Regions from separate parts of the Homo sapiens genome. Here region 2 is linked to region 1. The links come from fine-mapping of genetic effects on gene expression. A gene starts in region 1. The other region holds a variant in brackets. All regions are shown on one strand. Distances are between the middles of the regions.

Region 1 (16,842 bases):
CTGCAGGAGGAGCCTCCTGCTCAGACAGTGAAGAGAACCCATAGCTTCCTCCTTGTCCCAGGACTTCTTCCCCTGCACTGACTCCACATCAAGAGTAGGACAGGGTTGACCCATGAAGGTGCCCTAGGAAGATACTTCACACAAAACAAAAACTATAGTAACTATTTGATAAAAATTTGTTGAGGCTGGGTGTGGTGGCTCATGCCTAATCCCAGCATTTTGGGAGGCCAAGGTGGGAGGATCACTTGAGGCTAGGAGTTTAAGACTAGCCTGGGCAATACAGTGAGATCCTATACTTTTTTAACTAATAGGAAAAAAAGCTTGAAAGTAAAAAAAGAAGTGGGAAGGGATAGAAATAAGAGAAAGTAGTTTGTTTTAGTGTCTACACAGCAAACCACCCATTGAGAACATATTATGCATTTGTAATAGTAGAACAGAAACTCCAGCTCCTTTGAGTTCTATAAAATGCAAATTTGCCCAAGAAACAAAGTAAGGAAGTAACTTCAAGGGAGCCATCCCCATGAAGCAACCTCCAATTTAAATGGAGTATATTTGTTAGAATGTTGCATTGGTGAGCCATCTGTTGTTTATCACGTAGCCATGGCGAGGGGCTGAGCAATCACTATTCCTCAAGAACATTTTCAATCTGCATTCTAACATCTTGACTCAAGCTAAGGAGGTGTCTACTTCCTGCTGCAAAAGAATCCAGTGGGGCCAGGAAGGTTAACATTAACAACTGCCTTAAAGACAAGATGGGGACTTGGAACATTACATTGCCAGTGCCTGGGGCCAATCCTGTGGATGGAGATATCTTCCAAAAGCAGAGGAGATTAATCATTATCAGAACAAACCTGCCCTTGGGAATCCCCTACACAGTACAGAGTTGGACTTCCAGGTTAGATTCTCAGGAGTTCGTAGCTTGCAGGGATATAAACCACCCAGCAATCCCATGACCTCTGCATCTTTTAGAGGGATGTTTTCTGATAGCTTCCTTGGAGCAATTGCTGATCATCTACTATGTCTGGGACATAAAACTAGAAACTGGGGCCAAGATGTATTAATCTCAGTCCCTGCATGCAAGAGTTTTACCATCTAGTTGGGAAGCAAAACATGCATTTGACAGTAAACACAGTTTTACAATGTTAACTGCCAACTCTACTGTCCAGAGCCCACATGTCTGTGTAGAGGGCAGGGAAATATAAGATGAAGATAAACTGCAAAATAATGTTAGCAGAGAGTGTGGTCAGATCCAACATGTGAGATCATAAGAGTCACAATAAGGACAAGAAATATTGTTTGAGCTTGAGAAGGAACGTTCTTCACCAAGGAGAAAAAAAGATGAGATTGAGACAAATGTCACTTGGAAAAAGGAAGGGTGGAGACGGAGATTGCACATTCAGTTTGGTGAAGCTGCACCCTCCCTATTAGATTAATAATTTTTAATACCATCTGGATGTGCTTCTATATACATTCTTTCACTCTGGGTCCCTGGCACCACCTATGTCTTGGGTCCTTCCTTTTCACTCTTCATTTCCACAGAAGCCCTTCATATACAAGGTGTGTTCAAAACAAATGGCATGATGAGGGGGAATGAAAATGAGCTTGAATCCCAACTCTCTCACTTGCTGGTTGTGAAATGGGGAAGAGACTTAACCTCTCTGAACCAGTTTCCTCTGCTGTAAAGCAGTGACCATGGTAGAGCTATCATAAGGATTCAATGAGAAGAGGTGTAGAGCCACACACACAGCAACTGGGAGAGTGGTGCTGAATCAATGACAGTTATGATTATTTCTGGTAAAGCGTAAAGCTTTGTTAGAAAAGAGGAAAATGTGACCAGCCAAGGTCTTTCCCCCAGGGCTCCTGCTCTCCAAAGAACCCCGTGAGACGGCAGAGCTACCACGAGAGCTGATCAAGTGCTCTCAAGTGGCAGGCACTGTGTCTGAGTATGTGCAGATCCTAAGTCCCAAAGATAACTCCGCAGTCCTCATCCACAGAAACTTATTGGAAAAATGGGTCTTTGCAGATGTGATTAAGTTAAGGATCTTGAGATGGGGAGATCATCCTGGATTAGCTGGGTGGGCCCTAAACACCATCAAAAGCATCCTTATAAGTAAGAGGCAAAGATAGGCTAGACACACAGAGAGAAGACGACGATATGAAAATGGAGGCAGAGATCAGAGTGATGCAGCCACAGCCAAGGAATGCTGGCAGATACCAGAACCTGGAAGAGTCAAGGAATGGCCCCTCCCTTAGAACCTCCAGAGGCATTGTGGCCCTGACAACACATGCAGTTCAGACATCTGGCCTCCAAAACTGGGGGAGAATAAATTGCTGTTGTTTGAAGCCACCTAGTTTGTAACTTGTTACAGCAGCCACAGAAAACTGATACACCCTCAAAGCAAGTACTGTCACTATCCCTATTTTACTGATGAGAAAACTGAGGCAAAGAGAGATTGAATTACTTGCCCATAAAGTGGGGCAAGAATTCTAAATGTGACAGTTGATGCCAGAGCCCCATACTTTACCAGCAAACTGGACTGCCTTGGCATCTCCCTAAGACCAAGGCTGGGCTACACTTGGCTGGAGAAATCCTCCCGATGCCACCTGATCTCCCTCCCAGAGACAGAAGATTGGTCACCCCACTTCATGGTGTGCTAACCTTTTAAAGCAATGCCTGGAGCATAGTAAATACTCAGTGACACTTAGCTAACTTATTATACTGTCAATGAGTTATCTTTCAGATCCTGCTAACCAGGCCTTGGGGGTCCATCATATGGAGGTGGGAAAAGCAAGATGGGGACTAAGAGGATGCCTGTGAATCATGGAAAACAGGAGAGAACTGAGGTAGGGGAGGGGAGCAGGGACTGCCAGCTGCCTTGCAATATTCATGCTCCCCTTCTTTCTTAGTGTCAGAGGTAAATTCTATCTTTATTCAGGCAGAAAAGTACACAGCTGAAACGTTATATTTTTTCAAGTCCTCTTTGTGGCTATGAGTATCCAATGAGATTTAAGTAAAATTGGTTGGGTAGGGTTTCAATGAGAACCCTTTGAAAGGCTGATGCAGCAAAAATTGTTCTGCTTCTACCTTTTGCCTTTCTCTCTTTCTTCCTGGAATGTAGACACGATGGCTGGAGATCCAACAGCAATCTTGTGACCATGAATGTGCTTGAGGAGGGAAACCACAAAGGGTTTAAAGCACATAGGCTAAGGATGGTGGATCAGAAATACAGAAAGCCCCTGATATCTTGTTATACCATCTATCCCACCAGCCTTGGACTGCCCACTTCTGGATTCTTCTACAAATGAATACAAAATCCTAATTTGTTAAAGACATTATACTCCAGTCTCTAGTGGCAGCCAGAAACAATCACTTACTGATATAGGGTAGAACAGCAGTTCCCAGAGATTCATATGGCATCAGTCCAAACAAAATATTTTTGGTGCTGATAAGACAGAAGTTGAGATTTGAAAGTTACCATTTGTTTAGACCATGCACTTACCAGATGATATTCTTTTCTTTATTTCAAAGCTCACAAAAACCTCTGTCTCCTCCCTGCTTCCCCTCAGTTGGTCCTTCTTTCAGATAGATGTGTGAGTTCTCTCTCACACCTATCCTAGGGCCTGCTTCTTAGAATACTCAAAGCCCCTTGCCATACACTGGGCTGATGCAGTGATGTGGCTGGGTCAACTAACAGACTCTACAAAAATGGGGTTTGAGCAGTGGCTAGCCTCACTTATGTTCAAGCGCAGTTCCACCCATGAGTTAGCGTCCATGAAAACCCTGCATTTCACTGGGAAGAAAAAGGCTGAATGTGTGTTGATGGCCTAATGAGGTCTATGGTGAGAACTGTGGCTTTAAATAAGATGACCCCACCCTACTTCCATTAAGGATCAGGCTTTACCACCAAACACACACCTTAATTAAGGACTTTATGAGCCTGAGCAGGACTGGTATAAATAGATCAAAATACTGACACCATCCCCAGGCAACTCAAAGGAGCCCAGTGTCCCCATTTACTCCAAGGAGGAGGAGAAGTATATTTATCTGGAGAAAGTATTTCTAAATAGAATCTAACTCCTAAATCCTATACTTTCTAGGAAACATTAGTGATTATAGACTCAATTATATTTTTGAACCCTATAATCAAGCATAGGTACCAAGCATAAAAGTTAATTTGCACCATCTGAGGGCTATAGAGTCTCAGCAAAATGATTTCAATTCATTTTCGATCTCGTCCTTGTGCATAAGGATGTGCCTAACTTTGGTTTCCAAATGTTTTCACATTACTGAAACTTTGGCACCCACCATCTTGTTCCCCAGATTTTTGCCCATTCCCCTTATTCAAAGATAAAACAACCAGAACAACTCAGTTGATAAGGTGATTAGCTTTTACTTCAATGATTTTGAATGCCTGCCCTGTACTGGATCCTCCATAGGATATTGTCAATGACAAAGTTCCGTGCAGGGAAGGGGGATTATTGAATATACGCCAAAACTTCTTATCTATCATCAGGGTGTTTTACTGCAGTTGCAGACATGACTAATGTACATCAAGCAATTAGAGGGCAATGCAGAGGGAAGAAAATGCAGTGTCCAAGTTCATGATAAAGACCCCAAGCTCCATGAGTGGTTAGGAAGGAAACAGATCAGTACAAGCCAGGGTCATGGGGGAAAGCTTCATGTATGAAGTGAGGAATTGGAGATAATTCTTAAAGGACAGGGGAAAAAATGGAGAAAGAAAAATAAAGACTACTTCAAAAGTTGTCACATATGCCCACGATCAGTCCCAGGTCTTCTCCAACTCTAATTTCTAGGACTGAACATTTGCAAATCATCTCTCTCCTTTCTTTCACCATTGCAAAAATCTTTCTAGAACTGGCAAGTCAGGAAAGATATTTTTCATTCAGTTTCAAAATTATTTCTAATGCTTTGGCATTACACTTCTCAAGTGACTCTAGGGATTACATTTCAACTCCCTTCTTACACAAATTAAGGAAAGTGATATTCAGAGAGATTATATGACATGTTCAAGATTACACAGCAAGTTGGGCAGAGCAAGCATTAGAAGTTAGGTCTCTGGATTTCTATTTCAGGTTCTTTCCATTCATGGTGGAATTCTGAGCACCTGGCTCTCCTGGTCCTTTAAATATCAGACATTTGCCCAAGTGTGAATATCCAAAACAACAGACTGTCCTCAGAAAGGCAGCCTATTCACCCTCCAGGAGGCTGAGAGAGGGGCATGATTACATCATCCACGATGGCTCCTTCCTGCTCCTGGGGAAATGGCACAACACAGAGTACACACACTGAACTCCACTTATGTCCCAGTCACAGCATCTTCACATACACCCAGGATGGATATCTTGTGGTCCACAAGCAATGTCAGCCACCTACGACAGCCCTACCTTTTTAGGAACTTGTCTGAGCCACCTACCACAACTACTAGCACTGATGGGATCACTGATAAAAACCAGTATTCTGATGGGATCACTGATAAAAGCCAACGTCCACTGCATACTCACCTGGATTTCCCTTCCAAGAGGTAGCAGTCTGTCTGACACAAACTCTGTCCCTTCGCATACCAGAAAGAAATGTTTGGGGACCTTGGCGTTCTAGGTATGACACCTTAGCATGCCAGCTGCTTCTAAGAACAAACGCACTATCATATGGGACCATGCATTTTGAAACCATCTCACTCAAATCTGATGCCAAACCAACTGTTTTCATCATGCCTATTTTCTTTTTCACCATAGCAATTTTTATATGTTTTATTGTACTTTCATCAAAGCACCATCTTCTGGTTGAAATGATCAACAGAGACCCCAACTTCTTCCAGCACCCCACTTTGTGAAAACAGCATTGTAGTACTTGAGTATTTATGATTCTTTGAGGTTTTGAATTAACCCAGATAACTTGTTTGGTCACTGACCACCAGTGATCCCTTTCAATATGCTTCTAGGAAGAGTGACAAAAGAGACTAAACATGCCTTTGGCAAAAATTAGGACTTTCTAGAAAGTTCTTATTACTGTGATCCTTGGCTTCCCTCAAAGTTGTTTTAATTCACTGGAGAAGGATCACCTTTACCAAGAAACAGATTGTGTGGTGAAAAGAAATATGGGCTGTGGAACCAAAGCAATGAGTTTGGTGCTACCACTTACTTATAAACTCCGGCAAGTATTTAACCTCAGAGCCTTGGTTCCTGGTTCATAAAATGAGAATAATAATATCTGCAAGCAGTAATGAATTGAAAAATCCCTCATAGAATTTTTGGGTCAGAATAAATGCCCATACACAGCTATAGTGACGTGGGCATTTTAGGAAGAAGAATTTCTGTGGGTGTTAATCTTATGGAAAGGCAATCCAGTATCACATTTAGCTTAAACGCTATATTCATTACACTCAGTGTACACACTTTCAACATTCTTATCCCCAGTAGCTGCTCACATTGACTGTTTCCTACTGAGCCCTCTCTGAGAATAGCAGAGCTCTATTTGTAGAGAAGGCTCCTGGCATTTTTGGTACCCTTTCAATCCCATAGCTATTCATCACAGTAAAGACACTACCACCAATGGTCAGCAGATGTGGGATTGAAAGCAATCAAGAGTTTCCTTTGGAAATAGCCCTGCAGACATTACATTTCCAGGTACAAAGCTTAAGGAAAAGTCTGCCTTGGCAGCTTGTCTGGCACAGGCTTCATCTTTGGTAAACAAAACATGACTATACCACCTTTGTTTTGTTAGAAAACTTGGAAGCTGTATTTCCAAGCCAACTGGATCTTTGGTCTTTCCTCAAAGACAAGGGGCCCTGGCTCTTAAAGACTTGCTGGTAGGCCCTGTGCTGTTCCTGAATTTTATCAACTAAACTCATCTTTAGGAAATGGAACATGGATGCAGAATGCAACTGGTTCTGCCTGTCAGAAAAGAAGCAAGCATTCAAATATCCAACAGAGGTTGCCAAAACATCTGAAAAGATGTTCTAATAACCACAAAGTTGAAAATAGCATGACATCTTCTGGAGTCAGGAGGTGACTTCAGAGGGAGATCCATGAAACAAATTAGATGGTTAAGATACTAGGCCCTGGAGGGGGCAGGGAGAAAGGGTTATTTTCTGCCCCAAATTAAAAATCAGGAACATAGAACACCGTGGCGCCATCTCACCTAGCTATGCTATAGGTTCTGGGATAAGATATTGCCCTCAGCAAGAATGACTTGGAGCTGGAATAAACTTTTTACCAGTGAAAGCGCTAATTCTAAGTAGACTCAAGGAAACCCTGAAAATAGCAGGCAAATCTCCTGTGACTTCCCCCTCTTTTAAACGTTGAAAAACATGACTTAGCATACTTATCTCCCATTATGATGTTTCATTCCAGAAATACAAACTAAGAAAACACTGTGTTTTAACCATAAGGAATTCTTGAAATTTCTCAAATCTTCATCCCAAGTGTTGTCATTTAAAAACAAACAAACAAACAGAATCCCCCAGAAGTTACTAGTAGTACCTGGTGGAAATTGTCAAACACCTGGTTGTGTATATGTCCCTTCACAGGCAAGGCTATTAATAGGTGGCTCAACAAATACATGGAGCTATGAATATCTCTTCCAGATTACACACCCATCCATACTAGGGCTCTTCAAGCAAAAAACAAAACACCTTCTCTTGGTCTAGATCAACTCACCCCCATTGTAAGTACCCAAGAAATACAACCTTCCCCACACAAAGTCAAAAAGAGGCCAAACCTGGGAGTCAATGAGGACCCTAAGTTCACTCACTTGTCTTCTGTGAAACTTTTCCCAGTAATAACATTCTTCCCTTGGGGTACATAGTTCCAGTATTCTTCCACAATCCCAATGTAGTACGTTCTGGTAACTGTGCCAACCAGCCCAGACAGACCCAGGAATGTGAGGAGAAAGATGCAGCCAGCTGGCTGCTTCCGAGGCATTTGTGGATGTAACTCAAGCAGGCAGGCAGCCTGCACAGGGGACAAATCTGTTGGTCCCTCCCCCTCACTCAGCTCCTCCTCCTCAGGTAGCTTGGGTTTGGGGAAGAGGCAAAGGCTGAGGCCTTGCGTAAGCAAAGCAAGCTCGATGGGGGCGTTGCTTTGACAACAAAACTTTTGCCAGCCATCCGAGAAATGTGTGACTGGCTCATTTATGTATTGCCCAAGCCAACAGGCCTGTTTCTATACGTTTCGGTACCATGCTCTGACATCAGTCATTTGTCAGCCAGGATGACAGTGTGACTACTTGAGCCGATGGCTTTCCCCCACCCCTTCTTCTTCTTTTCTTCTCCACACCTCTTACATTAAAATCTGAAAAGTGAGCTGGCCTGAGTGGAGCATCAGGAAACACTCCAGGCACTAAAGAAGGCCTCCTCTCTGTCGGGAGGGCAGAGGAAGTGACATAATCACCATCCAGCTTGTTTTATGAGGCTATGTGAAACCACAAACTAACATCATAAAGTTCATCACAACAACATAAAACCCCACTAATCCTCCACTGGCTCGTGTACCATCTCCCCCATATTCTCTCAAATCCTTCCAGCAAAAATGAGAAGGTTGACTGCTCAGTTCAGCCAAAATGTTCGCGGCCACCACCTCCACACAGGGAGCCGCCTTTCTTAGGATGAATGAAAATGATGATGGGGAAGTACCCTTCAGACACATGGAGACAAAATTCAGTAACAGGTCTTTGGGTGGAAAAGGCTGGGCCATTCTTCTGTGTCTTCTAATCTGTGTCCCAGAATCTCGGTATTGAAAGAGACCTTGATCAACCTTGGAAAAGAGTTACTCTTATCCCCATGCACAGTTACTCTTGAGGGAGCAGCCATGGAATGAAGGAAACAGCCTCCTGGCCTTTGAAGTTGGTCAGACCTGGGTTTGAATGTGAGTTCCCACCACTTTCCAATTTAGTGGCATGGAGGAATCACTTAACATCATTGAGCTGGAGACTATAGAAGAAGGATTGAGGGATTCTTAAGGAACTTTTTAAAAGATGATGTCTGCAAAGTGCTTACCCCAGCCCCTAGCATAGGGTAGGTACTAAGTAAGTGTTAAAGTCCTTCCTGCCCATTCATGCCCTCTAAGAGAGACTGTATCAACCTGTGTATCCACAGACTTGTGTTTCCCCGCAGTCTTCAACTTTCTTTCCACTATTCTTTGCCAAAGTCCTATCTGCCATGCCTTCCACCAGTCTCAAGTAAGAGAATTCTTTTTCTTTAAATGGTAGCTACCCTATAAATGTCCCATAGCACAGTTTGTATTAGCATTCATCTTAATTAATAAAAGGCCAGGCACGGTGGCTCAGGTCTGTAATCCCAGCAATTTGGGAGGCCAAGGCAGTCAGATCACCTGTGGTCACGAGTTTGAGACCAGCCTGGCCAACATGGTGAAACCCTGTCTGTACTAAAAATACAAAAATTAGCCGGGCGTAGTGGCAGGCGCCTGTAATCCCAGTTACTTGGGAGGCTTAGGCAGAAGAATCGCTTGAACCTGGGAGGTGGAGGTTGCAGTGAGCCAAGATTGTGCCACTGCACTCCAGCCTGGGCAACAAGAGCAAGATTCCTTCTCAAAATAAGTAAATAAATAAATAAATAAATAATAAAATACATACTGAGTATCCTGTTTCATAGCCAGGCTCTTTACAACTTTGATTTACTGATTTGTTTGTTGTATCAAGGACACTGGTAGAATAATTGCCACAGCACATTTCCATTTAGCTAAAATCTCCTCTTCAACATGAGTTTGGGAGCTTCGTATGAGTCTGGCACTTCAACGGACACTATAGAGGAGGACTTACGTGGTAGGCCTGAGGTTGGCCTCAGAAGAAGTAGGGAGTTCAAAGTATGGGGAATCTGGCCAGGCGCAGTGGCTAATGCCTATAATCTCAGCACTTTGGGAGGCCGAGGTGGGTGGATCACCTGAGGTCAGGAGTTCGAGACCAGCCTGCCGAATATGGTGAAACCCTGTCTCTACTAAAAATACAAAAATAACCCGGGCATGTTGGTGCATGCCTGTAGTCCCAGCTACTAGGGAGGCTGGGGCAGGAGAATCTCTTGAACCCTGGAGGCAAAGGTTGCAGTGAGCCAAGATCTCACAACTGCACTCTAGCCTGGATGATAGAGCGAGACTCTGTCTCACAAAAAAAAAAAAAAAAAAAAAAAAAAAAAAAAAAAAGGTTGTGGAATTTGGAAATGTCCCAAACCAAATATCTTGTTGCTTACATCCCAGAGAAGCTGGCTATTTTGGGCGTATCAAAGACGTTATTAGGACATATTCCCCCCTTTTTGGACAGGAGAAAAAAAAAGGTATAAGTGATACAGCTCAAAAAGACAAAAGAGTTAACTTTCTTACCCAAGATACTGAACGCATATAATTAAAACCCAGGAGAAGGCATTACCTAACTTCTGATTCAAAAACTAGATCTGCAGAATAGATCAGGTCAAGAAATCTGAGTCACTATAGCAGATGAAGTCAACGCATTTAATCTATTTGTAGCAGAGAACTTGCTTACAGAGGGCCAAAAGTGGGAAAGAATTTATTAAAAACAATGAAATAGGGTTCTGGAAAGCTCTCTTAAATTCTTCCTTATCCTAGGACAATAAAGGTGTTACTCAAAGAGCATTGGAATGCCATAGGAGCTAAAGAAAATAAACTGGTATGAGACAATGCAGTGTTCCTGTGACACTCATTTCAGAAAAGCGACAGTTCCACGCCCAATGTGTTTGACAGTGTCTAAATTTTATTAGGAAACCTGTGAATTATCATATCAACACTCATTTTTAAAAACCCACAGTTACATACAAGATATGTTTGACAATGTTTAAAATTTGATTAAGTAACCTGTGTAAGTAATAATGTTAGCAAATACTTCCAACTCCATTGAACACTAGTCAGACATTTTTTTAAAGTCAAGAAACCCATTTATCAAGCATTTATTATGTGAGATGGCCAGTTCTAAATATTCACTCCATTCCTCAAAACATTCACCAGGTTTCAGATAAGGTAAATTTGACATCATGCATCAATAGCAGAGAAAGATAATGCTGGGTTAAATCACATTTTATTGAAATTATGGTACAGGCACACCTTGAAGATATTGCAGGTGTGGTTCCAGACCACCATGATAAAGTGAATATCAAAATAAAGCGAATCACATGGATTTTTTGGTTTTCCAGTGCGTATAAAACTTATGCTTAGGCCATGTACAGTGGCTCACACCTGTAATCCCAGCACTTTGGGAGGCCAAGGTGAGAGGATCACTTGAGGCCAGAAGTTTGAGACCAGCCTGGGCAACATGGCAAAACTTGTCACCATAAAAAATACAAAAAAATTAGCCAAGCATGGTGGGGTGCACCTATAGTCCCCGCTACTCAGGAGGCTGAGGTGGGGGGATCATTTGAGCCCAAGAGGTCGAGGCTGTAGTATGTTAAGATCATGCCACTGCACTCCAGCCTCACTGACAGAAGGAGACCCTATCTAAAAAAAAAAAAAAGTTATGTTTACACAATATTACAGTCTATAAGTGTGTGTGCAATTGCATTATGTCTAAAAAATGTACACACCTTAATTTAAAAATACCTTATTGTTTAAAAATGCTAACAATCACCTGAGTCTTCAGTGAGTCAGTCTTTTTGCTGTGGAGGGTCTTGCCTCAATGTGGATGGCTGCTGACTAATCAGGATGGTGGTCACTGAAGGTTGAGGTGGCTGTGGCAACTTCTTAAAATAAGAACAATAGTTTGACACATCATTTGGTTTCCTTTCATGAAAGATTACTCTATAACCCATGATGCTGTTTAATAGTATTTTACCAATAAAAGAACTTCTTTCAAAATTGGAATAAATTTTCCCAACCCTGCTCCTGCTTTATCAACTAAGTTTATGTAATATGCTGAATCCTTTGTTGTCATTTCTACAATATTCACAGCATCTTCACCAGTAAATTCCATTTCAAGAAACCACTTGCTTTGTTCATCCATAAGAAGCAACACCTTATTCATGTAAATTTTATTATGAGATTGCAACAATTCAGTCACATCTTCAGGCTCCACTTCTAATTGTAGTTCACTTGCTGCTTCCACCACATCTGCAGTTACTTCCTCCATTGAAGTCTTGAACCTCTCAAAGTCATCCATGAGGGTTTGAATCAGCTTCTTCCAAACTCCTGTCAATGTTGATATTTTGACCTTCTCTCATGAATCACAAATATTCTTAACAGCATTTAGAATGGTGAATTATTTCCAGAAGGTTTTCAATTTACTTTGCCCAGATTCATCAGAGGAATCACTATCTATGGCACCTATAGCCTCAAGAAAGGTATTTCTCAAGTAATAAGATTGAAATTCAGTTACTCCTTGATCTATGACATACGGAATGGATGTTGTGTTAGCAGACATGAAAACAACATTCATTTCATTATACATTTCCGTCAGAGCTCTTGGGTCACTAGGTGCGTTGTTAATGAGCAGTAATATTTTGAAAGAATTTTTTTTTCTTAGCAGTAAGTCTCAGCCCTGGACTTAAAATATTCAGTAAACCATGCTGCAAACAGATGTACTGTTGTCCAGACATTATTATTCCATCTAGGGAGTATAGACAGAGTAGACTGTGCATAATTCTTAAGGGTCCTGGGACATTTGGAATGGTAAATGAGCACTGGCTTCAACTTAAAGTCACCAGCTGCATTAGCATCTGCTAGGATAGTTAGCCTATCCTTGGGCCAGGCACAATGGCTCATGCCTGTAATCCCAGCACCTTGGGAGGCTGAGGTGGGAGGATCACTTGAGTGCAGGAGTTTGAGACCAGCCTGGGCAAGACGGCAAGACCCCATCTTGTAAAAACAAACAAAAACAAGAGTGAGCCTATCCTTTGAAGCTTTAAAGCCAGGCATCGACTTGTCCTCTTCTACTATAAGGATGTTTGGTCTACATTGAAAATTTATTGGCCTAGTGTGGTGGCTCATGCCTATAATCTCAGCACTTTCGGAAGCCAAGGTAGGCAGATCACTTGAAGTCAGGAGTTTGAGACCAGCCTGGCCAACACAGTGAAACCCATCTCTACCAAAAAATACAAAAATTCGCCAAGCGTGGTGGCACATGCCTATAATCTCAGCTACTCCAGAGGCTGAGCTGGGAGAATCACTTGAACCCAGGAGGCTGAGATTGCAGTAAGCTGAGATCCTGCCACTGCACCCAGCCTGGGAGGCAGAGTGAGACCCTGTCTCAAAGAAAGAAAAAAAAAAAAGAAAAGAAAAGAAAGAAAAAAAAATGTATTGTTTAGTGTAGTCACCTTCATCAGTTATCTTAGCTAGACCTTTCAGAAAACTTACTGCCGCTTCTCCATCAGCACTCACTGCCTCATCTTCACTTCTGTGTTATGGAGATGGCTTCTTTCCTTAACCCTCATGAATCAACCTCTGCTAGCTTCAGACTTTTCTTCTACTACTTCTTCATCTCTCTCAGTCTTCAAAGAATTGAAAAGAGTTAGGGCCTCACTCTGAATTGGGCTTTGGCTTAAAGGAATGTTGTGGCTGATTTGGTCTTCTACCCAGATAGCTAAAACTTTCTCCATATCATCAATAAGGCTATTTCACTTTCTTAGCATCCGTGTGTTCACTGAAGTAGCACTTTTAATTTCCTTCAAGAACATTTCTTGCATTTGCAACTTTGCTAACTGTTGGGCACAAGAGGCCTAGCTTTCAGCCTGTCTCAACTTTCACCATGACTTTCTCACGATGTTTAATCATTTCTAGCTTTTGATTTAAAATAAGAGATGTGTGACTCTTTCTCTTGAACAGGTAGAGGGCTTTGTAGAGTTATTAAATTGGCCTAATTTCGACATTGTTGTGTCTCTGGGAATAGAGACGCCCAAGGAGAGAAAGTGATGGGAGAATGGCAGTCAGTGGAGTGCCAAGACCAGCTCGGTCGTGGAGATGCTAACTCAGTGGTGCTAGAGGAATTAAAGGCACACACACAGAAATATAGAGTGTGGAGTGGGAAATCAGGGGTCTCATAACTTTCAGAGCTGAGAGCCTTGAACAGAGATTTACCCACATATTTATTGATAGCAAGCCAGTGATAAGCATTGTTTCTATAGATTATAGGTTAACTAAAAGTATTCCTTATGGGAAATAGAGGGATGGGCCAAAGTAAAGGGATGGGTCTGGCTAGTTATCTGCAGCAGGAGCATGTCCTTAAGGCACAGATCACTCATGCTATTATTTGTGGTTTAAGAATGCCTTTAAGCAGCTTTCTGCCCTGGGTGGGCCAGGTGTTCCTTGCCCTCATTCTGGTAAACCCACAACCTTCCAGCATGGGCATCATGGCCATCACGAACATGTCACAGTGCTGCAAAGATTTTATTTATGGGCAGTTTTGGGGCCAGTTTATGGCCAGATTTGGGGGCCTGTTCCCAATAGTGGAGCAGTCATCACACACGCATTTATCAATTAAGTTTGCTGTTGTATATGAGCATGGCTTGTGGTGCCCCCAAACAATTACAGTGGTAACATCGAAGATTACTGATCACAGATCACCATAACAGATATAATAGTAATGAAAAGTTTAAAATATTATGAGAATTACCAAAATGTGACACAGAGATATGAAGTAAGCACATGCTGTTGGAAATATGGCACAAATAGACTGAGAAATACATTTTGAGAGATCCCCAACTCTGACTGCAAACTTCTGTCAGCTCATGCTTGATGCAGGGTTGCCTCAAACCTTCAATTTCCAAAAGGCCCAGTATCTGTGAAGTGCAATGACATGAAGTTCACTTGCTATTTCCACCACATCTGCAGTTACTTCCACCATTGAAGTCTTGAACCTCTCAAAGTCATCCATGAGGGTTTGAATCAACTTCTTCCAAACTCCTGTTAATGTTGATAGGACAAGGTGGGCCTGTATGGGCTATATTTTTTAATTAACTTCTATTTTTATTTCAACAGTTTTGGGGGTACAGGTGTTTTTTGGTTACAAGGATATGTTTTTAGTGGTGATTTCTGAGATTTTACTGCACCCATCACCCAAGCAGTGCACACTGTACTGAATATGTAGTCTTTTATTTCTCACCTTCCTCCCAACCTTCTGGCCCCAATTCCCTAAGTCCATTATATCATTCTTATGTTTTTGCATCTCATAGGCTAGCTCCCACTTATAAGTGAGAACACACTGTATTTGGTTTTCCATTCCTGAGTTACTTCACTGAGAATAATGGCCTCCAGCGCTACCCAAGTTGCTGCAAAAGACATTACTTCATTCCTTTTTATGGCTGAGTAGTATTCCATGGTGTATATACACCACACTTTCTTTAACCACTCAGTTGATGCACACTTAGGTTGGTTCCATATCTTTGCAATTGTGAATTGCACTGCTCTAAATATGCATACACCTGTGTCTTTTTCACATAATGATTTCTTTTCCTCTGGGTAGATACCCAGTAGTGAGATTGCTGGATCAAATGGTGGCTCTGCTTTTAGTTCTTTAAGGAATTTCCTTTCTGTTTTCCGTAGAGGTTGTACTAATTTACATTCCTATCAGCAGTGTATAAATGTTCTTTTACCACATTCACACCAGCATCTTTTTTTTTTAACTTTTTAATTATGGCCATTCTTGCAGGAGTAAGGTGGTATCTCACTGTGGTTTTAATTTGCATTTCCCTGGTAATTAGTGAGGTAGAGCACTTTTTCATATGTTTGTTGGCTGTCTGTATCTCTTCTTTTCAGAATTATCTATTCATGTTCTTTGCCCTCTTTTTGATAGGATTATTTGGTTTTACCTTGCTGATTTGTTTGACTTCCTTGTAGATTCTAGACATTAGTCCTTTGACAGATGCATAGATTAAAAATATTTTCTCCCATTCTGTGGGTTGTCTGTTTATTCTGCTGATTATTTACTTTTTTGTGCAGAAGTTTTTTAGTTTCATTAGGTCCCATTTGTTTACTTTTGTTTTCGTTGCTCTTGCTTTTGGGGTCTTATTCATGAATTCTTTGCCTAAGCCAATGTCTAGAAGAGTTTTTCCAATGTTATCTTCTAGAATTTTTATGGTTTCAGGTCTTAGATTTAAGTCTTTGATCCATCTTGAGTTGATTTTTATATAAGGTGAGAGATGAAGATCCAGTTTCATTCTTCTACATGTGGCTTTCCAGTTTTCCCAGCACCATTGAATGGATAGGGTGTCATTTCCCCAATTTATTTATATACAGGCTATTTAAATAAAAAATTATCTTAGCTAGATCTGGGAGAAGTCAATTCAGATGAATAATATTCTACCTAGCCTTAGCTGAAGTGTCATTTTTAAAAATAAGTAAAATGGGAGGGACAAAATTGATTCTCCCATTCTTTAATGTTTTCCTTTTTTGAGAAATACATTGAATTCTCCTTAAAAGACTTCTGATATCCCAAACCGTGACTGCAAGCTTCCATCAGCCCAGCACTCTCCCTGCCCTGCTACAGTAAATCATGGCTCTCAAACCTCACTAGGGTCCCTAGTCCCTTGATAGTAACTTGTTATTCCCCACCTGGAGCCCTGTGGCTTCTCTACTGCTCTGACTGGTGCTAGAATGACCTTACCGATTGCAGACAGGACCAGGTCTCTCCACTGCTTGAGAGTTTTCAATAGTTTTCTATGGCCTTTAGGGTAAGGACTAATGGTCTTGACTTGACTTTTAGAGCTGGTCCTGATTTGTCTTCTGGGAACTGGGGTCACTCCTCAACATTTAGTCATCATCATGGTTGTGCCCTTCCTCTGAGCTCCCACCAGTGCTGTGCATGCCTCTGCCATAGCCTGTCACACAGTACAGTGACCACCTCTTCATCTGCTCTCCCCTACACACTCAATACAG
Region 2 (16,842 bases), 120 kb after region 1:
GTGGGAATGAGCCTCCAGGAGGGCAGCCCAGGCTGACACGTCCCTCTGGCAGGCTCCACCTGGGAAGCCATGTGGGTCATCACTCATAATCAAAGCCTGCACTAAACACTGCACTCTGTGAGATGAGCTGGAGGGGTCTGAATGGGAACCACAAATCAGGTCCCTTTTCAGGAGCAGGGATCTGGGCTCTCAGGAACCTCAGGACCCAGTTGGGTCTTAGCTTTGCCCCAAAATGAGTCACTTTGGTTCTACCTTGGGAAATCAGTCCCGCACTGATACACAGATGTCTGGGTTTTCTCTGTGGTCTGGGAAAAGCAAGAGCTGGTGCTGGGGATAGTCAGTACATATTAATTAATGATGATGAACACTGTTCTCCCCTCCCTTCAAAACTGGTGAAATGCTTCGAATTAAACAGATTATTCATAATATATAAAAACTGCCACTTTTCAAGTCAGATCATTTTGGAAGAATGTCAAAAGAGAGGGGTAAGACAGAGATTAAAATCACTTTCAGGATGGCTGTACATTTTCAGGGCTTTAAAGGTTTACTGTGTGGCCAGCCTGGAGGCTGTAATGTCTCTTGTGTGATTGAGGAGCTGAGAGGTGATTAAAGGACTTAAGCCAAAAGGGCTGCCTCCCAGTGTGTTCGAAGAAGAAAAATACCATTAATCATAATAATGATGTGTGTTTATAGAAGGCCTTTCATCTGTGCCTCTCAAAGTGCTTTAACCACCATTAATTATACCTCCCAGTGCACCTCTGAGGTAGATAAAAATTATTATACCCATTTTACAAGTGAATAAAGGCCTACAGGGCGAGTAGGAGTGAATTATTTGGGGTCACACATAAACCAGTGGCAAAGGAAGCAATTCCTGTCCCGGGTCAGGACTGAGATTACCCTATTCTTGGGTGCCCTCCTCTCTGAAGGATCGGGCTTTGAGAGAGAACCAAAGATGCTTTTGTGATGCCACCTCTAAGGGCTAATGGAATTGATCACTCTTAGCCCAGGCTCTTAAAAACAGAAAGTGGCCTGTTGAGAGAGAGCATGAAGGCAGGATCTTCTCATTAATTGGGGCATTGCCCCTTAGGATTCATGTGGCCAGTGATCAACAGGACGTTTCGGACCCGTCTGCCCCAGCTGCCTGGGACGTATGACCCAGCTGCCTGGGTCTCTCCAAGGTGTTCATTTCAGGAGAGTCACTGACATGGTTCCCAAAGTCAGTCTGAGCAAACAGATTACCTGCACAGCAGCTCCTCCCTGTGATGAGCATGCACATCTCTCTGTGGCTCCCCCTTTGCTCTTGCCTTTTGTTCCTGTCACTCACACCACAGGAGCACCTAGCAGAGGCACTAAGCTTGTCTTGGAAGCTTCGGGAGAAGAGCATGAGTAGGTCAGGCTCTTCATGGGGAAAGAAAACATTGTATCTGAGGTAACAATAGGCAAAGGTCCAGCTTTCCAGAGGTGAGAGACAGCCTGGGTGGGAGGAACTCCACCGAGTCCTTTACAGTTGACACCAGTATGCATGAGGAGGAGTGAGTGGCAAGAGCCAAGATAAGGAATTTTATACAGGGGCATCGGTGGAGAGTGGTGAGCTGTGGAAATACGCAATTAAGTCTGTATTTTCAGAATAGGAAGCCCAGGAGGAGGTGCAGGTGCAGGGTGCAGCAGAGATGCTGATTCAGTTGGCACTGTTCACTTTGAGGTGCCTGCAGAGCACCCAGGTGTAGATGTGAAGATGTCCGCTGGACTTTGGGTACTGGAGCCCAGAAGTCAGAATCTGGAATACAGATGGAAATTTATAGCTGGGCGTGGTGGCGTGCACCTGTAGTCCCAGCTACTCAGCTGGACAGGAGAATCGCTTGAACCCAGGAGACAGAGGTTGCAGTGAGCTGAGATTGCCCCACTGCACTCCAGCCTGGGCAACAGAACAAGACTCTCTCTCTCTCTTATATTTATATAATATAAATATGTTCATATATATGTTTATATTATATAAAGTATAAATATATATTTATATTACATACAAATATTATATAAATATACATTAGCCCAAAGCAGAGAATTGTAATATATATTATAAAATGTATAATACTGTATATGTATATATAATAAATATATAAAATAAAAATATATTCTATATAAATATATATATAATAAATAAATAAATATATTTATTTTTGGTATGTATGTTGGACCATTTTCCTCTTCTGCTGGGAACCCTCCAAAGGCTTCCATTTCACTAGGAGTGAAAACCAGAGCCCCACTCGCCTCTAAGCCTGGCCCCTGCATTCTGACCTTCCCTCCCGCTCTTCCCCATATCAGCCTTTTTGCCAGTCTTACTCATGCAAGCTCTGCTCCCGCCTCAGGGCGTTCATCCTTCTGTTTCCTCTGCCTGCAAGTTCTTGCCCCAATAGACATTGGTTGCTCCCTGGCCTCTCCATGCCTATGCTCAGGCATCTCGCCTGGCACATGACCACCTATTTAAAACTTCAGCTTCCTCCTGCCTTTTCATGTACCCCAATCCCTTTGCCAGCCATGTTCTTCTCTCTCACCATGGTACTTCATGTATTTAGTCCCACATACCATTTCCTCATGTATTTTGTTTGCTGTCTTCCTCTACTCTCTACTGTCTCCTGAGCCACTCTCTGTCTCTCTCTATAGCTCTAGAATATAAGCTAGACATGAAGGCAGGGATTTTTACCAATCTTATTCACTGGTAAACAGTGAAAAATAGAACAGTGCCTAGTACACATAAGGTACTCAATAAATACTTGTCAAAAAAATCACTTAACTAAAATTGATCCAACAAAAAAAAGTACAAAGATTATTATTGGAAAAACTGGGAAATTCTAAACATGGATTATAGATTAGATAATACTACTGTTATTACACACACGCCAGTATTAAATGTCTTGAATGTGATGTAGATTATGCAGAATATCCCTGTCTGGGGGAGATACCAGCTATAGTACTTAAAGGGAAAGTGCCATGATATTTACAACTTGCATTCCAATGTTTTAGCAACAAATAAAAATATTTGGGAGTGGATAACACAAAATAATTGATGAATCCAGTGGAAGGGCATATAAATGTCCATTAAACTATTTTTTCAAATTATCTTTAATTTGAAATTCTTTTCTTCAATTGTGGTAAAACACATATAACATAAAACTATGCTTATCATTTCAGCCAGTTTTAAGTGTAAAGCCCTTACAGTTCAGTAGTGCTAAGTACATTCACCCTGCTGTGCCATCTCCAGACCTCTTTTCATCTGGCAAAACTGAAACTCTGTACCCATTAAATAACAACTCATTCCTTCATCTCCACAGCCCCTGGCAGCTGCCATTCTACTTTCTGCCTCTATGAATTTGACTACTCTAGGTATTTCACATAAGTGGAATCATACAGTATTTGTCTTTTTGTTTCTAGCCTAGTTCACTTAGCAAAATGCCCTCAAGTTTTATCCATGTTGTAGCATGTGTCACATTTCCTTCCTTTTTAAGGCTGAATAATACATTGTTGTCTTTCAATGCTTATTAATTCCATTGTGTGCGCATGTGTGTGTGCAAATGTGTGTGTGCTTCTGTGTGTATTTACATATATTTATATATACATACCACATTTTTGTTTATCCGTTCAATCATTGATGAACACTTGGATTGCTTCCACCCTTTGGCTATTGTGAATAATACTGCAATGAACAAAGATATACAAATATATCTTCAAGACCCTGCTTTCAATTTTTGGGGGGTGGTATATGTCCAGTGTGGAATTGTTGGATTATACAGTGGTTCTATTTTTAACTTTTTTTCTTTTTTTATTATACTTTAAGTCCTGGAATACATGTGCAGAATGTACAGGTTTGTTACATAGGTATACACATGACATGGTGGTTTGCTGCACCCGTCAACCCATCATCTACATTAGATCTTTCTCCTAATGTTATCCGTCCCCTAGCCCCCCATCCCCTGGCAGGCCCCAGTGTGTAATGTTCCCCTCCCTGTGTCCATGTGTCCTCATTGTTCAGCTCCCACCTATGAGTGAGAACATGCGGTGTTTGGTTTTCTGTTCCTGTGATAATTTCCTGAGAATGATGGTTTCCAGCTTCATCCATGTTCCTACAAAGGACATGAACTCATCCTTTTTTATGGCTGCATAGCATTCCATGGTGTATATGTGCCACATTTTCTTTATCCAGTCTATCATTGATGGGCATTTGGGTTGCTTCCAAGTCTTTGCTATTCTGAACGATGCTGCAATAAACATACGTGTGCATGTGTCTTTACAGTGGAATGATTTATAATAATGTGGGTATATACCCAGTAATGGGATTGCTGGTTTGAATGGTATTTCTGGTTCTAGATCCTTGAGAAATCGCCACACTGTCTTCCACAAAGGTTGAGCTAATTTACACTCCCACCAACGGTGTAAAAGCATTCCTATTTCTCCATATCCTCTCCAGCATCTGTTGTTTCCTGACTTTTTAATGATTGCCATTCTAACTGGCATGAGATGGTATCTCATTGTGGTTTTTATTTGCATTTCTCTGATGACTAGTGATGATGAGCTTTTTCCATATGTTTGTTGGCCATATAAATGTCTTCTTTTGAGAAGTGTCTGTTCATATCCTTTGCCCACTTTTTGATGGGGTTGTTTTTTTCTTGTAAATTTGCTTAAGTTCTTTGTAGATTCTGGATATTAGCCCTTTGTCAGATGGATATATTGCAAAAATTTTCTCCCATTCTGAAGGTTGCCTGTTCACTCTGATGCTAGTTTCTTTTGCTGTGCAGAAGCTCTTTAGTTTAATCAGATCCCATTTGTCTATTTTTGGCTTTTGTTGCCATTGCTTTTGGTGTTTTATTCATGAAGTCTTTGCCCATGCCTATGTCCTGAATGGTATTGCCTAGGTTTTCCTCTAGGGTTTTTATGGTTTTAGGTCTCTTGTTTAAGTCTTTAATCCATCTTGAGTTAATTTTTGTATAAGGTGTTAGGAAGGGGTCCAGTTTCAGTTTTCTGCATATGGCTAGCCAGTTTTCCCAACACTATTTATTAAATAGGGAATCCTTTCCCCATTGCTTGTTTTTGTCAGGTTTGTCAAAGATCAGATAGTTGTAGATGCGTGGTGTTATTTCTGAGGCCTCTGTTCTGTTCCATTGGTCTATATCTCTGTTTTGGTACCAGTACCATGCTGTTTTGGTTACTGTAGCCTTGCAGTATAGTTTGAAGTAAGGTAGCATGATGCCTCCAGCTTTGTTCTTTTTGCTTAGAATTGTCCTTGCTATATGGGCTCTTTTTTGGCTCCATATGAACTTTAAAGTAGTTTTTTTCTAATTCTGTGAAAAAAGTCAATGGTAGCTTGATGGGGATAGCATTGAATCTATAAATTACTTTGGGAAGTATGGCCATTTTCATGATATTGATTCTTCCTATCCATGAGCATGGAATGTTTTACAATTTGTTTGTGTCCTCTCTTATTTCCTTGAGCAGTGGTTTGTAATTCTCTTTGAAGAGGTCCTTCACATCCCTTGTAAGTTGGATTCCCAGGTATTTTATTCTCTATGTAACAATTGTGAATGGGAGTTCACTCATGATTTGGCTCTCTGTTTGTCTATTATTAGTGTATAGGAATGCTTGTGATTTTTGCACATCGATTTTGTATTCTGAGACTTTGCTGAAGTTGCTTATGAGTTTAAGGAGATTTTGGGCTGAGACAGTGGGGTTTTCTAAATACACAATCATGTCATCTGCAAGCAGAGACAATTTGACTTTCTCTGTTCCTATTTGAATACCCTTTATTTCTTTCTCTTGCCTGATTGCCCTGGCCAGAACTTCCAATACAATGTTGAATAGGAGTGGTGAGAGAGGGCATCCTTGTCTTGTGGCGATTTTCAAAGGGAATGCTTCCAGCTTTTGCCCATTCAGTATGATATTGGCTGTGGGTTTGTCATAAATAGCTCTTTTTATTTCCAGATATGTTCCATCGATACCTAGTTTATTGAGAGTTTTTAGCATGAAGGGGTGTTGAATTTTATCGAAGGCCTTTTCTGCATCTATTGAGATAATCATGTGGTTTTTCTCATTAGTTCTGTTTGTGTGATGGATTACGATTATTGATTTGTGTATGCTGAACCAGCCTTGCATCCCAGGGATAAAGCCAACTTGATCATGGGGCATAAGCTTTTTGATGTGCTGCTGGATTCAGTTTGCCAATATTTTATTGAGGATTTCCACATTGATGTTCATCAGGGATATTGGCCTGAAATTTTTGTTGTTGTTGTTGTGTCTCTGCCAGATTTTGGTATCAGGATGATGCTGGCCTCATAAAATGAGTTAGGAAGGAGTCTCTCTTTTTCCATTGTTTGGAATGGTTTCAGAAGGAATGGTACCAGCTCTTGTTTGTAACTCTGGTAGAATTTGACTGTGAATCCATCTGATCCTGGGCTTTTTTTTTTTTTTTTTTTTTGGTTGGTAGGCTATTAATTACTGCCTCAATTTCAGAACTTGTTACTGGTCTATTCAGGGATTTGACTTCTTCCTGGTTTAGTTTTGGGAGGGTATATGTGTCCAGGAATTTATCCATGTCTTCTAGATTTTCTAGTTTATTTGCAGAGAGGTGTTTATAGTATTCTCTGATAAAACAGACTTTAAACCAACAAAGATCAAAAAAGACAAAGAAGGGTAATACATAATGATAAAGGGATCAATGCAACAAGAAGAGCTAACTATCCTAAATATATATGCACCCAATACAGGAACACTCATATTCATGAAGCAAGTTCTTAAAGAACCACAAAGAGACTTACACTCCCACACAATAATAGTGGGAGACTTTAACACCCCACTGTCCATATTAGACAGATCAATGAGACAGAAAATTAACAAGGATATTCAGGACTTGAACTCAGCTCTGGACCAAGCGAACTAATAGACATATACATAAGTCTCCACTCCAAATCAACAGAATATACATTCTTCTCAGTACCACATCGCACTTATTCTAAAATCGACCACATAATTGGAAGTAAAACACTCCTCAGTAAATGCAAAAGAACAGAAATCATAACAAACAGTCTCTCAGACCACAGTGCAATCAAATTAGAACTCAGGATTAAGAAACTCACTCAAAATTGCACAACTACATGGAAACTGAACAACCTGCTCCTGAATGACTACTGGGTAAATAATGAAATTAAGGCACAAATAAATAAGTTATTTGAAACCAATGAGAACAAAGGCACAATGTACCAGAATCCCTGGGACACAGCTAAAGCAGTGTGTAGAGGGAAATGTATAGCACTAAATGCCCATCGGAGAAAGCAGGAAAGATCTAAAATCAACACCTTAACATCACAACTAGAAGAACTAGAGAAGCAAGAGCAAACAAATTCAAAAGCTAGCAGAAGACAAGAAATAACTAAGATCAGAGCAGAACTGAAGGAGATAGAGACAAGAAAACCCCTTCAAATAAATCAATGAATGCAGGAGGTGGTTTTTTGTAAAGATTAACAAAATAGACCGCTAGCAAGACTAATAAAGAAAGAATCAAATAGACACAATAAAAAACTATAAAGGGAATATCACCACTGATCCCAGAGAAATACAAACTACCAGCAGCTGCTATTTGAATCTGATGGTAGGGATAGAAGAGGTGAGAGGAGCTCC[A/G]TGTCCCTTCCCTGAGACACTATTTCCCTTTTGATATAGGCTGAAACCTTGAGTCAGAAGAGTAAGGGGCTAATGGTGGAATTTCAGATATGAGTGAGTGACAGGTGACTGAAGAGCTATGAAACAGATTTTTTTTTTTTTTCACATGAAGTTTCACTCTTGTCACCCAGACTGAAGTGCAGTGGCATGATCTCAGCTCGCTGCAACTTCCACCTCCCGGGCTCAAGCGATTCTCCTGCCTCGGCCTCCCAGGTAGCTGGGATTACAGGCACCTGCCACTACACCCGGCTAATTTTTCTGTTTTAGTAGGGATGGGGTTTCACCATGTTGGCCAGGCTGGTCTCGAACTCCTGACCTCAAATGATCCACCTGCCTGGCCTCCCAAAGTGCTGGGATTACAGGTGTGAGCCACCACGTCCAGCCAGCAGATTCTTATTCTTCCAGCTCAGGACCTTCATCCAGGCCTCACCTTCCCAGTGTCTGCTCAGAAACTCCTCACACCTCAAGTTCCCTCCGTTTTGACCCACTTAGCTTTCATCTTAACCTGATTTTCATATAATAGAACCTAGGACTTAATAACCCTGGGCATGGACCTGTCCCAGAAACCCACCAGGTCCTGCCTCCTCTTGTTCCCAGAATCCTCTCCATGTCCTTCTGTGGGTACTGCATGTCCACAACCCTGACCCACCCAGGTATGCTCTGATCCCCCCACACAGGCCATGGGGGGCGCTGACACACAGACACAGGGACAGCATAACATGAGAAATCAGAACTGCCAGCCTGTTGGTGAGCCCTCCTGCCACTGTGCCCTGCAAAGCTCTTCTTTAGGGATCAAGCAGGGCCCCTTCCCATCAGGTACAGGTGATTTATCAGAGGGATTGCCTCCCCAGGTGTGTTTAGTCTGAATCCTTACTCTGAGCCTGAGATACTATTAACTGGCTTGTGAGGAAGAATGGCTTTTGAGGAAGAAATATCAGTTATAGGAACTAAGAAGCTGTGTTGGCCGGGCGCGGTGGCTCATGCTTGTAATCCCAGCAACTGGGAGGCTGAGACAGGCAGACCATTTGAGGTCAGCAGTTTGAGACCAGCCTGGCCAAAATGGCAAAACCCCATCTCTACTAAAAATCCAAAAAAAAATTTAGTTGGGCATGGTGATGTGTGCCTATAATCCTAGCTACTCAGGAGGCTGAGGCAAGAGAATCCCTTGAACCCTGGAGGCAGAAGTTGCAGTAAGCCGAGATTGCGCCACTGCACTCCAGCCTAGGTGACAGAGCGGGACTCCATCTCAAAAACAACAACAACAACAAAAGCTGCATTATCTCAGTACAACTTAGCACAGCATGAGAACATTGACCCCACTTCATCCAGTAGGTTGGTTATTCAATTAACAGCTGTCTCTCCTAGTAGACCTTGTTAGTTGTACTCACTGTTGTATTCCCAGAACCTATCACATAGCAGTGATTAATAAATGTTTGAAGAATGGGTGAATAAATGAACAAATAAATGGAAGACCAGACAGGGGTAGGATTCATGTTGACTACAATCTAAGATACCTCTTCCAGGATCACGGGGAGGGAAACAGAGGACAAATGGGAGTATGGAGTGGTCCAAAGGTGCACTTAGAAAGCTGAGGGAGACTCCACAAGGCGCTTTCCACTTGAAACGTGAATTGGGGCTCAGAGAGTAGAGAGTCACCTCCTGAAACAGCGGGGTGGGATGAGCAAAGAGGGAGGAGGGAGGATTGAGAAGTGAAGGTTTAAAACAACTACTGCAGGTAATGGGACTAGATGCCAACTGGACTCATGGAGAAATTGCTGAGCAGCAGGGTGGCTCTGAAGTTTTAACTCTAATGCTGGGGCCGGCAGACACCATCAACCAAGAAAGGGAATGGAGGAGGAGGAAACTTAATTCAGGGAAGAGTTTATGGGGGTCAGGCTTCCAGATAGAGCTAGCTGTCTCAGTTCAACCAGAATTTATCAATTCTTGTATGGAGTACAAAGTAAAATAGGAGAGCTCTGCCCTAGAGGAGCTAGAAAATGCTCCTCAAATCTGAGGGAATCATAAATGCCTAAGTAAAACCACAGAGGATCTCATACTATGGCTCAACTGTGAATGAAAAGAATGCCAAAACCAAAGGTTTTTCTCATCTCCCTCCCCCTTCTCCTTCTTGCTCCTGTTTTAAACCAAAACGCACAGATTTCAGCTCCTTGGCAGGTGAACAGCATTCTTTTTCACCAAGTGTGAACTACACTAGGCAGTCTTGGAGCACCCCCTGTTGAGTCTTCAAGGTATTAAATAGTTAGCTCTTGGAAGATAAGCTTCTAGATTGTATACGTAGCAGAAAAATGCACTCATTCAGCAAACACTTTTTGCCAAAACATTGTAACAGGCACCATGACTATAAATATATGCCCTCAAGTTTCTTCTGGTCTAATAAGAAAAAAAAATATCACTGTTCATTAGGACTGGCACTCATTTCTAAACAGAAAGCCTGTATCGAAAGCAAATTTAGTGGGAACTGAGATCTGTTGACTGAATTATGGTTCCCCTAAAAAGACAAGTGAGTATAGTATCCTGTTAGGTAGAAAATAGAAAAAATCTAGTCCCTGTAGACTGTTTTTCTTCTAGGTCTACTCTCTAGCTCCCCAAATATTAATCTGATCCGGCACTACAAAACACTGCACGAAGCACTACAAAAACCCACACCTTCAAAGGTGCCAGGTGGTGAGGCAAATGTGGGTCAGGTAAAGAGAACAGACTGAAGTCAATAGTTCTGAACTGGAGCTAAATAAAGCCATGCAAACTTGAGCAAGTCTTTTTTTTTTTTTTACTGTAAATCAACAAATTACAGTTGTTTATATTCATGGAGTACAAAGTGATGTTTTGATATATGTATACAGTGTGGAATAATTAAATTAAGCTAATTAATATATCTATGACCTCAAATACTTACCATGTTTTGTGATGAGAACATTTGAAATTCACTCTCATAACAAGTTTGAAATATGGAATACATTATTACTAATGATAGTCACAACACTGTGCCATGGATATCCAAACACTTATTCCTTCTGTCTAACTAAACTTTTGTACTCTTTGACTAACATCTCCCCATTCCCTACCCCCAAGTTGCTGGTAATCCCCATTCTACTCTCTGCTTCTATGTGTTTGATTGTTTTAGATTCCACATATAAGTAAGATCCGCAGTATTTGTCCTTCTGTGCCTTAGTTCACTTAGCATAATGTCCTCCAGGTCCATCCATGTTGTCTCAAATAGCAGAATTTTCTTCTTTTTCAAGGCAGGCACAATAGTATTTCATTGTGTATATATGCCAAATTTTCTTTATGTGTTTATCCATTGACAGAATGAGCAAGCCTTTTTAGCTCCCTGAAACTGTTTCCTCACTAGTAAGATGGAAATTAAAATGTCTATTTTCAAGATAGTTATAAGGATTAAATAAGATACTAATGTAGGAAACTTTGCTTTTTTTCTGCCCATATGATATACAGGAAAGGGAAACACTTTTTAAACTGCTGATCATGCTATTGAAATGAAATATGGAAAAGAAATTTAAAAAATAAAGTGCTGATCAAGTTTTGGTTATTGCTGTTATTAGTCCATAGAAGGGTACCCTCCATCAAGGAAAAACATGCCTCTGTCTTGCTGGTGAGCCATCACTGACCCAGGTAAATGAGAGGAAGGTGAGGTAAATGCAGAGGTTTTATCAAAGAGTCTTTTTCATTTCACGAATAATCAAAGTTACACAGAAAAATTTTATGTATCTGTGGCAAACAGACTCTACCTTTTTAGCATCTTCAAAAAAAATATGAAGTACCTAGGAATAAGTATGACAAAATTGTGCAGATCTTAATGGTGAAAGTTGTAAAACATATTGAGAGATATTAAAGACAGCTTACTTAAATTAAGAGATATACTATGTTCATAAATTGGAAGACTCAGTATTGTAAACATGCCAATTCTCCCAAATCATTTATAAAATCAATGCAATTCGAGTCAAAATGCTAATCAGTTTTTAGTGGCATTTGAAAAGATGATCCCCAAATTTATGTGAAGATGCAAAGGACAAAGAATAGCCAAGATGCACCAGAAGAAGAAGAAAAAGAAGGAGGAGGAAGAAAAAGAAGAAAAATGTAGGACTGGCACTGTCAAATGTCAAGACTTGATATAAAGTTACAATATTTTAAACAGAATGGATTGGTACATAGATCAACAGACCAATACAATAGAGTCCAGAAAGAGAACTTTGCATTATATGAACACTTGATACATAATAGAGGCAGCACTGCAGGGCAATGGGAAAGAACGGTTTTTAAATAAGTGCTGCTGGGACAATTTGCTATCCATATGGGTTAAACAGAAATCAATTCCAGGTATCCAGTACTTAACAGAAAAGGCAAAACTAGGCCAGGCTCAGTGGCTCATGCCTATAATCCCAGCACTTTGGGAGGCCAAGGCAGATGGATCATTTGAGGTCAGGAGTTCGAGACCAGCCCGGACAACATGGTGAAACCTGTCCCTACTAAAAATACAAAAATTAGCTGGGCATAGTGGCATGCACTTGTAGTTTCAGCTACTTGGGAGGCTGAGGCAGGAGAATCATTTGAACCCAGGAGGCACAGGTTGCAGTGAGCCAAGATAGCACCACTGCACTCCAGCATGGGCAGCAAAGCAAGACTCTGTCAAAAAAAAAAAAAAAAAAAATGAATGAAAGAAAAGGAAAGAAAAGAAAAGAACTATAAAGCCTTCAGAAGATAAAATGGGAGAATATTTTCATGAGCTTGGAGAAGATAGTTTTCTTAAACAGTTACCAAATGGCTGGGCGCGGTGGCTCACCCCTGTAATCCTAGCTCTTTGGGAGGCTGAGGTGGATGGATCACAAGTTCAAGAACAGCCTGGGCAAGATGGTGAAACCCCATCTCTATTAAAAATACAAAAAAATTAGCTGGGCATGGTGGTGGCGCCTGTAATCCCAGCTACTTGGGAGGCTGAGGAAGAGAATTGCTTGAACCTGGGAGGTGGAGGTTGCAGTGAGCTGACATCACGCCACTGCACTCTACCCTGAGTGACAGAGCGAGACTATGTCTCAAAACAAACAAAAAAAATTACCAAATGAACTAACTGTTCAAGAAAATATCAATAAATTTTTACTACATTAAAATTAAGAAGTTCTGCTCATCAAGTCTTCACCATTAAGAGAGTGAAAAGGCAAACTTATATTCACAATACTTATAACTGATTAAAAATTCATATCCAAAATATATAAGGAACTTCTTCAAATCAGTAAGAAAAATGGACATACCAATAGAAAAATAGGAAAGATATTAGAACTGAACCAGTACTTTACAAAAAAAAAAAAGGAAGAAAGAAATATAAATGTCCCACAACCTTTCTTGGTTGCAGGGAAATGCTAAATTAGAACCACGATGATATAACAGTATATAAAAACCAAACATTTGGCCAGGCACGGTGGCTTACATCTGTAATCCCAGCACTTTGGGAGGCCAAGGCGGGCAGATCACTTGAGGTCAGGAGTTCAAGACCAGTCTGGCCAACATGGCGAAACCCTCTCTCTACTAAAAATACAAAAATTAGCCAGGCATGTTGAAGTGCACCTGTAATCCCAGCTACTCAGGAGGCTAAAACAGGAGACTCACTTGAACCCGGGAGGCAAAGGTTGCAGTGGTAGTGAGCCGAGATCATGCCACTGTATTCCAGCCTGGGTGACAGAGCAAGACTCCAACTCAAAAAAAAAGCAAACATTTTTAAAGTTGATAATATTAAGTGTTAGTGAGGATATAGAGCAACTGAAACTCTCACACACTGCTGTTGGGAGTATGATTTATGATTTGTACAACTGCTTTGGAAAACTGTTTGGGGTTGTCTACTAAATTTGAATATGCATATATTAAGTGATCTAGAATTTTTATTTCTAAGTATATACCCTACAAAATACAGGTACATGTGTGCTAGAAAACATGTACAAAAATGTTCAGACCTCCAGCCTGAAGTAGCTTTTGTTAGAAAAAAGAATGTTCACAGCAACATTTCTCAGTACTCAAAAAACTGCAGACCACTCAAATTCCCATCAAGAAGGCAGCAAATAAGTAAATTATGGTGTATTCATATACAGCCAGGGTTGAAAAACTTTTCTTATGAAGGGCCAGATAATAGGATATAGGATTTCGGGTCATATGTAGTCTGCCTCATATTTTGGCCTTTTTTAGGGGGCAGCAGTGGAGAGTTGTTTGTTTTAAAATTTTATAATTGTAAAAAACATTCTTAGTTCACAGGCCATACAAAAACAGCCCACTGGCTGGATTTGGCCCATGGGCCATAGTTTAGCCACTCCTGATATAAAGAGAGTCTACCTATATAGCATCAAAAATGAATGAACTATAGCTACTTAAAACCCTATAGAAGAATCTTACAAACGTAATACTGAGCTAAAGAAGCAAGATATAAACATACACAAATACATAAAAAATCACATATGCAAAAACATCATAAGCAAAAATCACAAAAATATAATTCCATTGATATAAAACAAGTGCAGTGAAACTATGGAGCTTAGGAATGCATAAATAGACCTTAAAACCACAAAGAAAAGCAAGAAAATAGTTACCATACAAATCACAATTATGAATACTTCTGGGTCAGGGAAGGGATTGGAATCTGAAGGGGACCTCTGGGGCACTGGAGACATTCTATTTCTTGACCTGGACAATGGCAATATAGGTATTTGTTTCATAATTATGTAACTTATACATTTGTGTTTATTGTTTATCAAATTGTATGTCTATATTTTATGCATTTTTCTGTGTGTGTCATGTTTAAATGTGTCATCAATTGAATTTACAAAGACAGTGGTACAGATGCAGCCTCGTTGTCTGGGATAACACCCAAGGTTCTTTGTCCCACAGCTATGGAGATCAAGGATGTGGACACACAAAGGGTGAGGTTAAAGCAGAAGTTTAATAGGTGAAAGGAAAAGAATAGCTCTCTGCTTCGGAGAAGGGCCCCAAATGGGTTGCTGTACTGCAGTAAAATGTAAGGGTTTTTATAAGTGAGCTAGTAGGGAGAGGGTACTTTATCTCATAGGGCATGAAAAACCAGTTAGGACCAGGTGCGCCATCTGCATGGAGTGAAACCTCTGGCAGCCCCACCCCACTCTTTTATCATGCAGGCTGGTTCTTACCTTGGACTATTCCATGTTGCTTATCTCCTTCCCACCATGCATGTGCTAAAAAGGGGAGGGGGAGTTTCCATGCCTGGTCCTAGGTACCTCCTTGCAGCTGTAGGCATCTGCCCCACCATGCAAGCTTCCAGCTTCCCTATCTTAGTGTGCTCAAAAAGGGAAAGGAATGTGCTCATTAAGGCCCACTGTTTTTACTGGGATCAATCATATGTATGTGAAGTTTGGTGATTACCCTGGAAGCTCTCCCTTTATGCCAGAGTTGTTTATCTATGTTTTACAGCCCGATCTTCCAGGCTGGTCTTTATTAGAAGAGAAGTGATTTCTTTGAACTGCGAGTGGTTAGAAAGGAAGTAATTTCTCAAGCTGCTTTTTGTTAGAAGAAAAGTTTTGCCGGGGACTCTTTTGCCCTATCTACCCAAATAATTTCCTTCTATCTCCTGTATCAGTACAAAAAAAGAGTTAAAAAGAAAACCATAGGGCAGATAACATAATGCTAAAATAACATGAGAGAGGGTCTGAATGAGAGAGGGTGATACCCCAAGAATGGTGGGAGGCTGGTAATGTTCAAATGTAAGGACAGCAAAGGCAGAGGGGCCGTTGAAACTAGGAAGGGAAGCCTGATTAGAAGCAGCAGCATTCAGTGGAAAGAGGGCTGCCCAGTTCTCATCCCTTTGGGGGTTGGGGCTGCAGAGTTGCTCCCACAGGTTCCACTGGGCACAGACACTGGAGGGGCTGGAAGGGCTGTCCACAGAGGAAGAACAGGTCAGGATGGAACACGTACAAAAGGTGGGAGGTAATAATCAGTTTGTAGCTTCTCTGATGCCTCACCCCTCAGGCACCCTTTCACAGGCACAGGAAAGCAGACAAGGGAGCTGTATACACAGGTGAGAGAAGAAGAGATTTTTAAAAAAGTAGATATTGTTGGCAGGGTATGGTGGCTCATGCCTGTAATCCCAGCACTTTGGGAGGCCGAGGCAGGTGGATCACCTGAGGTCAGGAGTTCGAGACCAGCCTGACCAACATGGTGAAACCTCATCTCTACTAAAAAAATACAAAATTAGCCAGGCATGGTGGCGCATGCCTGTAATCCTAGCTACTTGGGAGGCTGAGGCAGGAGAATCACTTTAACCCTGGAGGCAGAGATTTCAGTGAGCTGAGATCATGTCATTTCACTCCAGCCTGGGTGAGACAGAGTGAGACTAGGCTCCGTCTCATTAAAAATATATATATTTATATTCTTGGGCCGGGTATGGTGGCTCATGCCTGTAATCCTAGCATTTTGAGAGGATGAGGAGGGAGGATCAAGTTTGAGCCCAGGAGTTCAAGACCAGCCTGGGCAACATAGCGAGACCCCATCTCTATTGCTTAAAAAAGGGCATTGTTTATATCTCTGTTACAGATCAAGAAATTAAGAATCAGGGAAGTTAAGACATGTGTCCAAGTTCACAGATTATTAATTAGTAAAGATGGAATGGGACCTAGGTTTGTCAGCCAGGGTTCTCCAGAAAAATAGAACAAATTAAATATATGTAGATTAGGTATTGGTATATATATAGAGAGAGAGAGATTTATTGCAGGCATGAAGTAGAAATCTACCTTGATAATTATGGGCAAAGATTTTCCTTTCCCTTAGAACCTCTCCCCTTTCCTGTCCAACTTAAACTTAATTAGTTAGTTTGTCCCTGAATTTGCCTGGAAGCCCAGCTACCCCAACTAATGAGGACCTTTCACTCTTCCTATCTCTGGGAGGAAAAAAAAAAAAAGCCAGATAAAATCCAGTGTGTTTGCCCCACAGGGAAGAAATCCCAGTGTCCCTGAGGCCTGAAGATGCACAATCTCTACCCTGGCACTCCCACCCCACCCCAGAGCAATCGTGACTTGCTGGAAGGGTCTCAGAAACTTTGATGTTATCACTTTGCTTTTCTCTCTCCAAAATTATTGCAAATTACCATGATGCAATGGA

Evidence for each region. PIP is the estimated chance that this variant, and not a neighbour inherited with it, causes the effect.
Region 2: its variant is fine-mapped to the expression of HEPHL1 in prefrontal cortex (CommonMind, PIP 0.95).

What each region holds. Positions count from the first base shown.
Region 1 is chr11:94,012,468-94,029,309 of GRCh38, reverse strand. It overlaps HEPHL1 (hephaestin like 1), which reads right to left and starts at 7,956. Exons shown (of 20, transcript NM_001098672.2): 1 at 7,772-7,956. The coding sequence starts at 7,941.
Region 2 is chr11:93,888,646-93,905,487 of GRCh38, reverse strand. It overlaps the pseudogene LOC101060084. Among named protein-coding and RNA genes, the nearest start is that of VSTM5, 46 kb to the right of the region's middle. The variant A/G (reference allele first, on the strand shown) is at 7,663.